Linked DNA regions of Homo sapiens: region 1 is linked to region 2. Evidence: fine-mapped expression QTL. A gene starts in region 2. The other region holds a variant in brackets. All regions are shown on one strand. Distances are between the middles of the regions.

What was found. PIP is the estimated chance that this variant, and not a neighbour inherited with it, causes the effect.
Region 1: its variant is fine-mapped to the expression of ZNF470 in cerebellum (GTEx, PIP above 0.99).

The regions. Positions count from the first base shown.
Region 1 is chr19:56,460,098-56,465,477 of GRCh38, reverse strand. It overlaps ZNF667 (zinc finger protein 667), which reads left to right. Exons shown (of 7, transcript NM_001321356.2): 4 at 3,049-3,140; 5 at 4,663-4,789. The coding sequence starts at 3,108. Among named protein-coding and RNA genes, the nearest start is that of ZNF667, 15 kb to the left of the region's middle. The variant G/CTG (reference allele first, on the strand shown) is at 3,069.
Region 2 is chr19:56,564,972-56,570,351 of GRCh38, reverse strand. It overlaps ZNF470 (zinc finger protein 470), which reads right to left and starts at 2,884. Exons shown (of 6, transcript NM_001001668.4): 1 at 2,314-2,884; 2 at 1,469-1,594; 3 at 1-72. The coding sequence starts at 40. It overlaps ZNF470-DT (ZNF470 divergent transcript), which reads left to right and starts at 2,331. Exons shown (of 2, transcript XM_047439806.1): 1 at 2,331-3,279. The coding sequence starts at 2,331. The coding sequence ends at 3,269. RefSeq lists enhancers at 2,445-2,554, 2,935-3,144, 3,155-3,204.

The DNA.
Region 1 (5,380 bases), 100 kb after region 2:
TCTTAGTATTCGTATTCTTACTACAACTTCATCCTACAAAGAGAGACATGTAATAATCCAAGCATTCTTCTGCCTAGCTTCTCTTAAATAGGATAAGGCCATCTTAGGATCCATGTTTTGTATCAAAACATATCCATTACCTAACTCTGAACTCAAGCCTGATGGCCTTGGATTTATCTTCTTCTACCTCCACCCCTACGGGGACGAAACAAACATCTGTAGAGGGAACATCCATTATTTCCATTTTCCAGGCTGTGTCCTGCTGTACTTTTTTCATTACAAAGTCACAAAAAGCTTTTGGGGATATTTCTGCTGTTGTTGGCAGCAGGGTATGACGATGGCATTCTTTGGAGGCGTGTGCTGGAACATTTAGGGATGAACTGTCATTCTACAACTTTCAGACAACTGCCTTTTTATAAAAAAGGGTAGGAAAAATGTTAACATTTGGTGAAGAGTAATTAGGCATTCATTGTATCATTTTCTCAAGATGTCAAGCTTTCCACAGTAAGGGAAGTGAAAAGTATGTCCCCATTTCTGTCCTCTCCAAAGACAAATGTGGAGGGCCAGGGAATGGCTGCAGCAGAACTGTGTCTCTGGGATGGGGTTTCAGCACACTGAGGATCTGGTTGAGTTAGTCAACAAGTGTTTATTGAGCACCTGCTCTATGCTAGGTAGGTTCTCAGCCCTGGGAGTAGAGCGGTGAACAAAACAAAGTCTCTGCTTTCCAGCCTAGATCATTGTGTGTGTTTAGGGAGGGGGGAGGTACTACCCACATAAACACCCACATAAAGAAGCTGTTTTCAGAAAGCGGTAAGTGCTATGTGGAAAATGGGGCAATACAATAAGAGAGCATGTGGCAGCACTGCCCCACAGAAACATAATGTGAGGCTGATAATTTTACATTTTCCAGAGGCTACATTGAAAAGGGTAAAAAGCAACACATTTATCATTAAAGTTAATTTTGTTTTGTTTTGCTTTGTTTTTGAGACAGGGTCTCACTCTGCTACCCAGGCTGGACTGCAGTGGCATGATCTTGGCCCACCTCAACCTCTGCCTCCCAGGCTCAAGCAATCCTCCCATCTCAGCCTCCCAAGTAGCTAGGACTACAGGCACACACCACCACACTCAGCTAATTTTTTAATGTTTTATAGAGACAGGGTCTCACTACATTGCTCAGGTTGCTCTCAAACTCTTAGGCTCAGGTGATCCTCCTGCATCAGCCTCAAAGCATTGGGCTGGCCCATTAAAGTTAATTTTAATAACATTTAACTGACTATATCAAAATATTAACATTTCAACATGTAGCCAATATAAACAGTTATCAATGAAATAGTTATTTTTTCATACTGATAGTTTACATTTTTTCATACTGAGTCTTTGAAATCTGATACAAATTTTATACACACGGTCCATCTAGACCCTTAATTTTCAGTGGAGATACCTGATCTGTACTTAATTTCCTAAAACCTTTGGAAAAGCAGAGTCACATACCCAAGTTGTTCCAGACATACTTTAAAGTTTTACGGTAACCAAATTGAGTATCAGTTTTTCATTTTAAATTTACAGTAAATTTTAATAATTTTAGCAATAATTTTAAATTTTATTTTATTATTGTTTTAATAGTGAATAGATTGGAGTGAAAATGAGTTCCGGGCTGGGCACAGTTGCTCATGTTTGTAATCCCAGCACTTTGGAAGGCCTAGGCGGGCTGATTGCTTGAGCCCAGGAGTTTGAGACCAGCCTGGGCAACATGGCAAAACTCTGTCTCTGAAAAATACAAAAATTAGCTGAGTGTGGTGGCAGGTGCCTGTGGTCCCAGCTACTTGGAAGGCTGAGGTGGGAGGATCGCTTGAGCCGGGGAGGTTGAGGTTGCAGTGAGCCAAGATCACACCACTGCATTCCCGCCTGGGCAACAGAGCAAGACCCTGTCTCAAAAGAAAAAAAAAGGGAAGAAAATGAGTTCCTCAGTTCCACTAGTTTTATTTCCCGTGCTCAGTTTTCATATGTGGCTAGTGGCATTCACATTGGACAGCATAGGTATAGACTGATACAGGGCAGAGATTCTTTGAGATGGGTGGATAGAGGGGCCCTCTTGAGGAGGCGATCTGACCACATCTTCCTTCCTCCACTCCACCCACCCTAGTCATGCCACCAACATCTTCCCCGGATTTCTGCAAAGCTACCTAGTGAGTCCTGTCCTCACTCCTGCTCCCTCTTCTGACACACAGTTAACCCACCATATAGACATGCCACAAATTTTTGTTAAATGTTGTCTGATGGTGTCACTCCCCTTCTCAGCTCCCCCTCCTCCCCCAGTGATGTCACACTTGAGATCAAATCCCAGCTGCTCAGCACCCCTTTCATGATCCGGCCCTGCCTGCCTTAGCCCACCCTCCCCGCTGCACTCACTCTGCCTCAGTACACAGACCTTGCTCTCCTCACACCTAGCCTGCGCCCACCCATGACGCTGACACCTGCTGTGCCTCTACCTGGAATGCTCTTCCCCTAGCACCCACATGGCTCATGCTCTCATATTTAGACCTCAGCTCAATGTGACCTCCTCAGAGACACCTTCCCTGACCATTCCACGACTCTAACCCCTGCCCTGGCCTGTTTATTCTTCATAGCAATGACCATGTCCATCATTGTGCTTTATATGGACTTTCTTTCCCTACTGGAATGTAAGGTGCTTGGGAGCCGGCACTCTTCCACTTTAACTCACTGCTCTCCCCCCAGTACCTGGGACAGCTGGACACCCAGTAGGTGCTCAGTAAATACTTGTCAGATGGATGGCCAGAGGTCTGTGCAGTCCTTATTTGCCTCATGACCAAGAACCTGCTATGATCTTAGGCACAAAAAGGGTTGGCCGTGCCCTTCCCTGACCGTGAGCAGGTGAGGGGGGACAGGAATGCGCCAGGTGTTCTGACATCTGTGTGTGTGTGTGCACGTGCATATGTGTGCATGTGTGTCTGTGTGTGTGTGTGTCTCCAGGTTAGGTAGGGGCCTGTGGACTCTGGCACTGCCTCATGACCTGTCTTCTCCCCACAGCCCTGCCTTACCAGCTCTCT[G/CTG]CCCATCTCTCAGTGTGGACCCTAAAGGGGGAGGAAAGGATGCCTTCTGCACGGGGGAAATCCAAATCCAAGGTAAGTGGCAATTCCTCTTCCTTCCGGAACACCCCATCGTGTCTTGTGAGATGTGGACCATTTGCTTTCCTTCCATGGAGACTTGTTGCCTGTTGGAGATCCATCCAACACCTAGTCTTTGGTTTTCTCCCGTTGCCATGAGGGATGAGAACCTGAGAAGGGCCCAGCAGCCAGGAAACTGCTCAGCGAGCCTCTCTCCATTCCCAGTGTGCACATGGCCACTGGCCTGTTTGTTTAGCATTCCCAGGGGCTTTGCCAGTGCCAGGAGAAATGCCCTCCCCAAGAGAAATGTCCTCCGTGGAGGAAGATGAGAGCCACTGTGATTTCTCAGCATGGAGATGAATGCCCAGGTGGGGCCTGCAGTAGCAGAGGGGACTTGACATGTGCTCTGGAGTTAGTCTTGTTGTGTGGTTTTGTATCTCCTTGTAAAACCCATATTTACATGGAGGAAATCTCTTTAACTAAGGTCCCAAGACTAAAAGGCACCACATAGCCCTGCTATTCCATTGACTGCACTGGTGCAGGCAGTGAGGTTGTATGCGTAGCCTCCTGTGGTCAGCATGCTCCACGACTGTCAATCATTGAGTGGTTTTTCCAACAGGCATCTCAAATGCAGTTTCCCATAACAAATGTGTTTGCTTTCAGTTGGGTGTATTAGTTGCCCCTTGCTGCTGTAACAGATTAGCTGCAAACTTGGCAGCTCAAAACAGCACGTGTTTATTATCATGCAGTTTTGTGGTTGGCGTCCAGGCACAACATGGTTTAGCTGGGTCATCTGCTTTGGAGTTCACAGGGCTGAAATCAAGGTGTCAGCCGGCTGTGTTCTCATTTGGGGCTCAGGTCCTCTTCCAGACTTGCTGGTTATTGGCCAGATTCAGTTCCTTCCTACACTTTCCACCTGACCCTCATTTTTCATCTTCAAGACAGCAAGAACCAATAACCAACTGGCCAGGTCAAGTCCAAGATAATCTGCCAAGGTCAAGTGATCAGTAACCTTGATTATACCCTCAAAGAACCTTTTGTCATGTGTAACATATTCACATGTTTCTTGGAGAGCAAGTGGTTAGGAGATTAAATCAGGAGCTGTCTGGGCTGAACACTAGCTTCTCCATTTACTAGCTGTGAGACCTGCAGTAAGTTTTCTCATCTCTCTGGGCCTCAGTTTCCTCATCTGTAACATACTGTGATTCCGCTGACAGTGCCTCTATCACTGATTCACATGAGCACTAAGTGAGCCAGTACAGTCAGGTGCTTAGAAGAATGCTTTGACTTTGTAAATGCCTGGTAGATCCAGGTTGCCACGTGTTCTTAATGCAACATAATTTTAATAACAGCTATGTCTTATATTGTATTTTATTTAACTTATTTAATACACCTGCCCCTTTTGGCCTCAGAACCCTGAATGCTTCCTGAATGATTCTTGGTACCTTGTGTCTCCCATGTTTAAGATGTGTGCACCATTTCCTCCAGCCATGTGGAAGCACAAGTCCATGGTGAATAGACATTTGATTTTTCATTTCAGGCACCTATAACATTTGGGGACTTAGCCATCTACTTCTCCCAGGAGGAGTGGGAATGGCTGAGCCCCATTCAGAAGGATTTGTATGAAGATGTCATGTTGGAGAATTACCGGAACCTGGTCTCGCTTGGTAAGGCTCTTCGTCCCCCACAATCCAGAACCAGCCTATTGAGGGACATGCATCACTCTGGGTCTAGTCAGGAAAATGGAAGCCACTGCAGTTTCTTTTTTAAAAGAGCTTTATTGAGATATAATTCACATACTATACAATTCACCCATAAAAAGTACACAATTAAATGGTTTTTATAATAGTGTATTCAGAGTTATGCATCCATCACCACAATCAATTATATTTTCATTATTTCCACCCAAAAACCCAGTACCCATAAGCAGTCACTCTTCGTCTCCCCTGGCCACTCATCCCCCCAGGTTCAGCAACTACTAGTCCACTTTCTATCTCTCTGGTTGTGCCTGCTCTGGGCCTTTCATACATATGAAATCATAAATATGTGGCTTCTTTGATTTCTAATGTTTTTGAGGTTCATCATGTTGTAGCATGTGCCAATACCTCATTTCTTTTCATTGCCAAAGAATATGTATGGTATGGATAGACCACATTTTGTTTATCCATTCATCAGTTAATAGATGGGCATTTGGGTTGTTTTCACTCTTGTTATTTTGATATGCTGCTATGAACATATACAAATTTTTTGTGTGGATG
Region 2 (5,380 bases):
GTTTAATTCCTGCCACCTCTACCTCTTCCTGGCTCTTCATTTGGAGAAGAGCTTTACTCTGGGATTGTAGAGCTGGGGAGAAAAAGAAGTAGTGAGAAACCAAGTAGCACTAATAATCAAAGTCTGAAAATGCTTTCTTCCCTTCAGCTTCTTCTGTCCTCACTCACAGTCCTCACTCCAACTCCCCCACCCCACAGTCCTGATGCTCTTTGGGAGACTTGAAATATATAGCTGGGGTTCCCCTCTGCTCTGGGTTTTCAGGATGAGCATAATATCTCTTGACCCCCTCTCCCCATCAGCCACCAATTCATTAACAACAGATTTATTAATACTAGCCTGTGTGTGTGTACATTTTTTTTTTCTAAGACAGGGACTCACTCTGTTGCCCAGGTTGGAGTACAGTGACGTGATCATAGCTCACTGTATCTTCAAACTCTGGGCTCAAGGGATCCTCCTGCTTAGGCCTCCTAAGTAGCTAAGATTACAGGCATGTGCCACCATGCCCAGCTAGTTTTTTTACTTTTGATAGAGATGGGGGTCTCACTATATTGCCCAATTGCTCACTATATTGCTTGAGGCCAGGAGGTGTCAACCTCCTGGAGTTAGGTATCTGGTCAACCTCCTGGCCTCAAGCAATCCTCCTGCCTTGGCTTCCCACAGTGCTGGGATTACAAGCATGAGCCACCATGTCTGTGCTGCATATATTAATACTGTCTTTAAATCTCCAAAATCTTCAAACAGAATCGGGTATATTGTCACCATTTTACACAAGAAAGCTCTGGGAAGTCAAGTCTTTTCCACAAGTCACACAAATTTGTAAATAACCTAGTCACCAACCTAGGTCTGGCTGACTCTATCACAGAAGTTATTTGCTCATATACCAGAAAATAACAGAAAATAAGTCCTCTGTGCAGTTGGCCAGGATTTGTGAACATTCTATAAGACAAATTCCATGGAGAATTCCATCTTTTCCAGAGAGAGGCATTCCTTTCGTTACAACAGAGTCCATGTGACTTGCAGACAACCAAATGAAAAAATCCTCATGAGGCCTAGGATCTCATTTTGTTTTGTGACAAACTACAGTGTTGAAGCAGTCCCTTGACTCCACTGAGCCATGTTTCCTTAATTAGGAAGGAAGAGGATAAAGTATCTGAATTAATTCTAGTTTCTTTCATCTAAATTCCACTGCCTTCTCAAAGGATTATCATAATGATGATAAAAATGAACACATTACATGGCAGGGACTATACCAAGTGCTTTACATGTATGAGGTCATTTAATCCTTATGACAGTACTGTGAGGTATATAATATTACCATCTCCATTTTACCTAAGAACTTAGAGTCATAAACTTTTTAAGAAAAAAACCCCAAACCTGCTCAGTGGAGGTTCTGGCATATGAACTATTTAGTTATTTAACCCTTTCAGAGTCAGTTTCTTTAATTGTCAAAAGTGGCTAAGAAACCTACCTGAGGCAGTAGTTGAGGAAACTACATGACAGCCAGTGACTCTGGAGTCAGCCTGTTCTGGATCTGAATCCCGGTTCTTCCACTTGCTAGTGATTACTTATCCTCTCTATGCTTCTGTGTCTTCATCTGTAAAAAAGAGGTAAGTAGTTCCTACTTCATAATGTTGTGAAGTTTGGTGCTGATACTCCCAAAAGGTCTTAGAACTGTGTCTGGCACATAATAAACACTCATTAAACATTAGCTATTACTATAGCATGCAGGAAACTAAACAAGCACAGAACAATATGGCTAAAAATAGCCCTTCCTCCCCCTTTCTCTTTATTGGAGTGGGAGGCCAGAGGGGAGGGAGAGAAGCCCAAGGAATGGGGATATCTTCCGTTATTGACTAGAACGTGATTAAGCCATAGAAAGGCTGGAATGCCTCGGCATTTCTGGGTGAAGCTGTGAATCTCGCCTTCTTCCCAAATCCTACAGTGATAGATGGGACAAGGCTCTGACGGGTAAAAATCTAAATGCTGAGCTATTCCTTCAACAGCAGCAGAGTACCCAGAAGTAATGCTATAATGGGTAATATTACGGGTAGTGTTCTCTCCCATGGGCCCTTAGTGATATACCAAGGACCTGAGTCAGGTTATCTGGTTAGGTGTCTCTGGCCAAGTCAAGGTCCCTCCCTAACTAAACCCAGCTCCACTCTGACCCAAGGTGACCCTCCAAATCTTTCGACTTCCAGGTCCACTAGCCTTAGAAACGGGGGACATCCTCCTCCAGCACCTGAACCCCGAAAGACAGCACCCAAAACCTCAATGTCCACTCCGGCAGCCACATCCGTCATCTGTCACTCTTACCTGTGTACTCAGTCCCCATGGTCTTCGCTCCTCGCCGTCCTGTGGACATGGAGCCCTGTCCTGGGCTCTGCCCCTTCCAGATAGGGCTGACAGGAAATGCTTCAGCCGAGGCTGCCCCGCCCGGGCAACTTCCCCGGGCTCTAGGACTTTGCCCACACTGGGCTCTACGCAGTCGATACAGGGGAGAACGGGGTAAGCCTCCTCCGGCCGGGTTTCCTGCTCTTGGCCACTTAAAGTGCTTCACTCATTCCAACACACACCGCCTTCCGCACGCCGCCGGGCCATGCACGCAGGCGCAGATTCGCGGCCACGCACCGGACAGTCACACACCGGGCCGCCATCCCCGCGCGCGCTCGCCCCTCCTCAGCACAGCACCGCACGCTCACCACGTATGGGCACTCACAGCCACCAGGCCACACGCGCACGCTCACGCCCGCCGCCCACACAGGAACCAGGACACCGCCCCCGCCGCGCCCCAGTCCAGCCTCGGCCGCTGCCCCGCCCAGACCTCCCTTCTCCTCAGCAACCGGCGGGACGTGCACTCGCCCGGCTTTGGGTCCTTTCCGGAAGTGGGCGTGTCCTCCGCTGCAATAGCCCCTGGGAAGTGTAGTCCGGAACGGAGGCGGCGTTCAGAAATAGGGCGCTGGCTTTGCCAGGAGCGGCTCCTCTCCAAGCCTGGCGGTCACTGCCCTGTGTCCCCTTTTGGGCCTCTCCTGGTCCTCCTGGTTGGATTAGGAGGCCTCTCAGCCCGGAGTCTGGGTCGCCGAAGTACAGGCCCCTTCACTGAAGCGACCCACGGCGCAGGGGTTTCTGGAAGCCATCGCCAGGCTCCGAGTGTTCAGATGCAGCTGCCAGGCTCAGGACGCAGAGAACTGGCTTCCAGCTCGCAGGAGCGCCTGTCCGTGGTGGGTAGGGTCGCAGGCGTGGGGTGTGCAGGAGCAGTGGGACAGCACTGAAACGCAGTCGGTAAGGCGTAGCGGCTACCCTCTGGAGAGGAAAACCATGACAGGGCGGGGCTTGGGGCGCGGGCGGGGCCTACGCGATAGAAAAGTGAGGAGATTGGGATTTGTCTGCTTTGCACACTTGTGACTTTCTGATGGTGCGCGTGTGGAACCTGTTTTATTTCATGCCTACTAGTTACTGCTCTCTGATATACGGTACGCCCCTCACCTCCCCCCACCCCATTTTATCTCTCCCTGCTGGAAGGAGGGTTCCAAGAAGGCACACAGCTTCCGTCCTGTTCAGGGTTATATTCTCAGTGACTAAAACAGCACATAGTAGGTGCTTAGTTTTTTATTTTTATTTTATTTTTTAGGAAATCACGAAATCTAGCATTGCCAGTCTCACCATGACACAACATGTTATAGGCTGAATATGTCCTCCCAAAATTACTATGGTGAAACCCTAACCCCTAGTGTGATGACGTTAGGAGGTGGGACTTTGGGGAGGTAACTGGTTTTAGATTAGGTCATAAGGGTGATACCCTTATGATGGGGTCAGTGCACTTATTAAAAAAGAGGAAGGAGGGGTCTCCATGTTTACACAACCACCAAGCAAAGGCCATGTGAGGACACAGCAGGATGTAACCCATTTGCAAGCCAACGGGGCCCTCACCAAGAACTGAATGTGCCAGCACTTTAACTTCCCAGCCTCCAGAATTGTGAAAAATAAAGTCTCTTAGTCAAGTCACTTAGTCTATGATATTTTGTTATAGCAGCCCCAGCTGACCAAGATACAGCATCATAGATACTGGCTCACCAGAAACTAACTCACCCTCCCAGTCACACTCAATCACCCAAGGCCACACAGTGACATCTAGACTGGACTCTCCTGGATCCAATTTATGTCAGACATCATAAACAACATAATAAAGCCAAGTCTAGCTGTGAAGATACTTTAACTATGAAACAGCAAATATCATCTTAGAGCTTGTAACGTTTGTGGTTATTTGAGTTGGATGAAAATGATAATATTCTCATTTTAGCTCTGGCATATAAAGAGCTCGGAAGCCTTCATTCCCATCTTCACAACAACAAAATCATTCAACAAACTGAAAATCAACTTTTCTTAGATCCATCAGAGAACTGAAGATAGAAAGGTAACTGACACCCCAAAATCCCGAGAAAGAAAAATACATAAAATTACAGCCAAGATTAGCTTACTTGAAGCAGAAGCCACTGGAGTTATAAACTGGTAAAAACTTTTATTTTTTATAATTTTGATGAATTGCTGGAGGCTTAGTGTGGGCTAACTTGTGAGTTAAAAACTCCTAGGGGCCCAATCTTAGATGGGCCCCCACACTTTCGTGAATTTTACCTCCAGAAACCCTATCAAATTCTCTCAGTGAAGAATGGGGAAAAATCTCAGGTTTTTGGGCAAGGGGAGGAGAAAAGTAAGCACCACATTTTCCATAATAAACACCTGCACTCCAAGAAAAACTACTTACTAGAGTCTTGTTGGACCTTGGGGAGAGGCAATTGGCCAGCTCCAGTCCCTCTATAGCCTGTCTGTCTCAGTAAGGCAGGATTTTTGAAAGGCTAAGAAGTGCTTCTGAAGATCACAGTCCAAGGCCTCAAGCCCACTAGAAAAATAGTATTTAATAATAAGATTATAGAATGCTTCCCTCCCCACTGTACCTCACTGCCACACTAATGGGGCTCTGGTCAATAACAGTAGATTACAACAGAGAAAACTGCAAGGCACAGACTCTATTTAAGAAGGAGTTCTTAGGGAAGCCCACAGAAGGAGAAGCATCTTGGAAAAAGTAGACAACATGCAAGAACAGATGGGTAATGTAAGCAGAGAGATGCAAACTGTAAGAAGGAATCAAAAGGAAATCCTAGCAATTGAAAACCATTGTAACAGACATGAAGATTACCTTTAGTGAGCCCCTCAGACTAAGACACTCTGAGAAATGAATGGGTGAGCTTGAAGATATGTTAATAGAAATTTCCCAAACTGAAATACAAAGAGGAAAAAAAAAGAATGAAAAAAGAAAAAGAACAGAATATCCAAGAACCATGGGACAATTACAGAAGGTGAAATATATGCGTAACTGGAATACCAG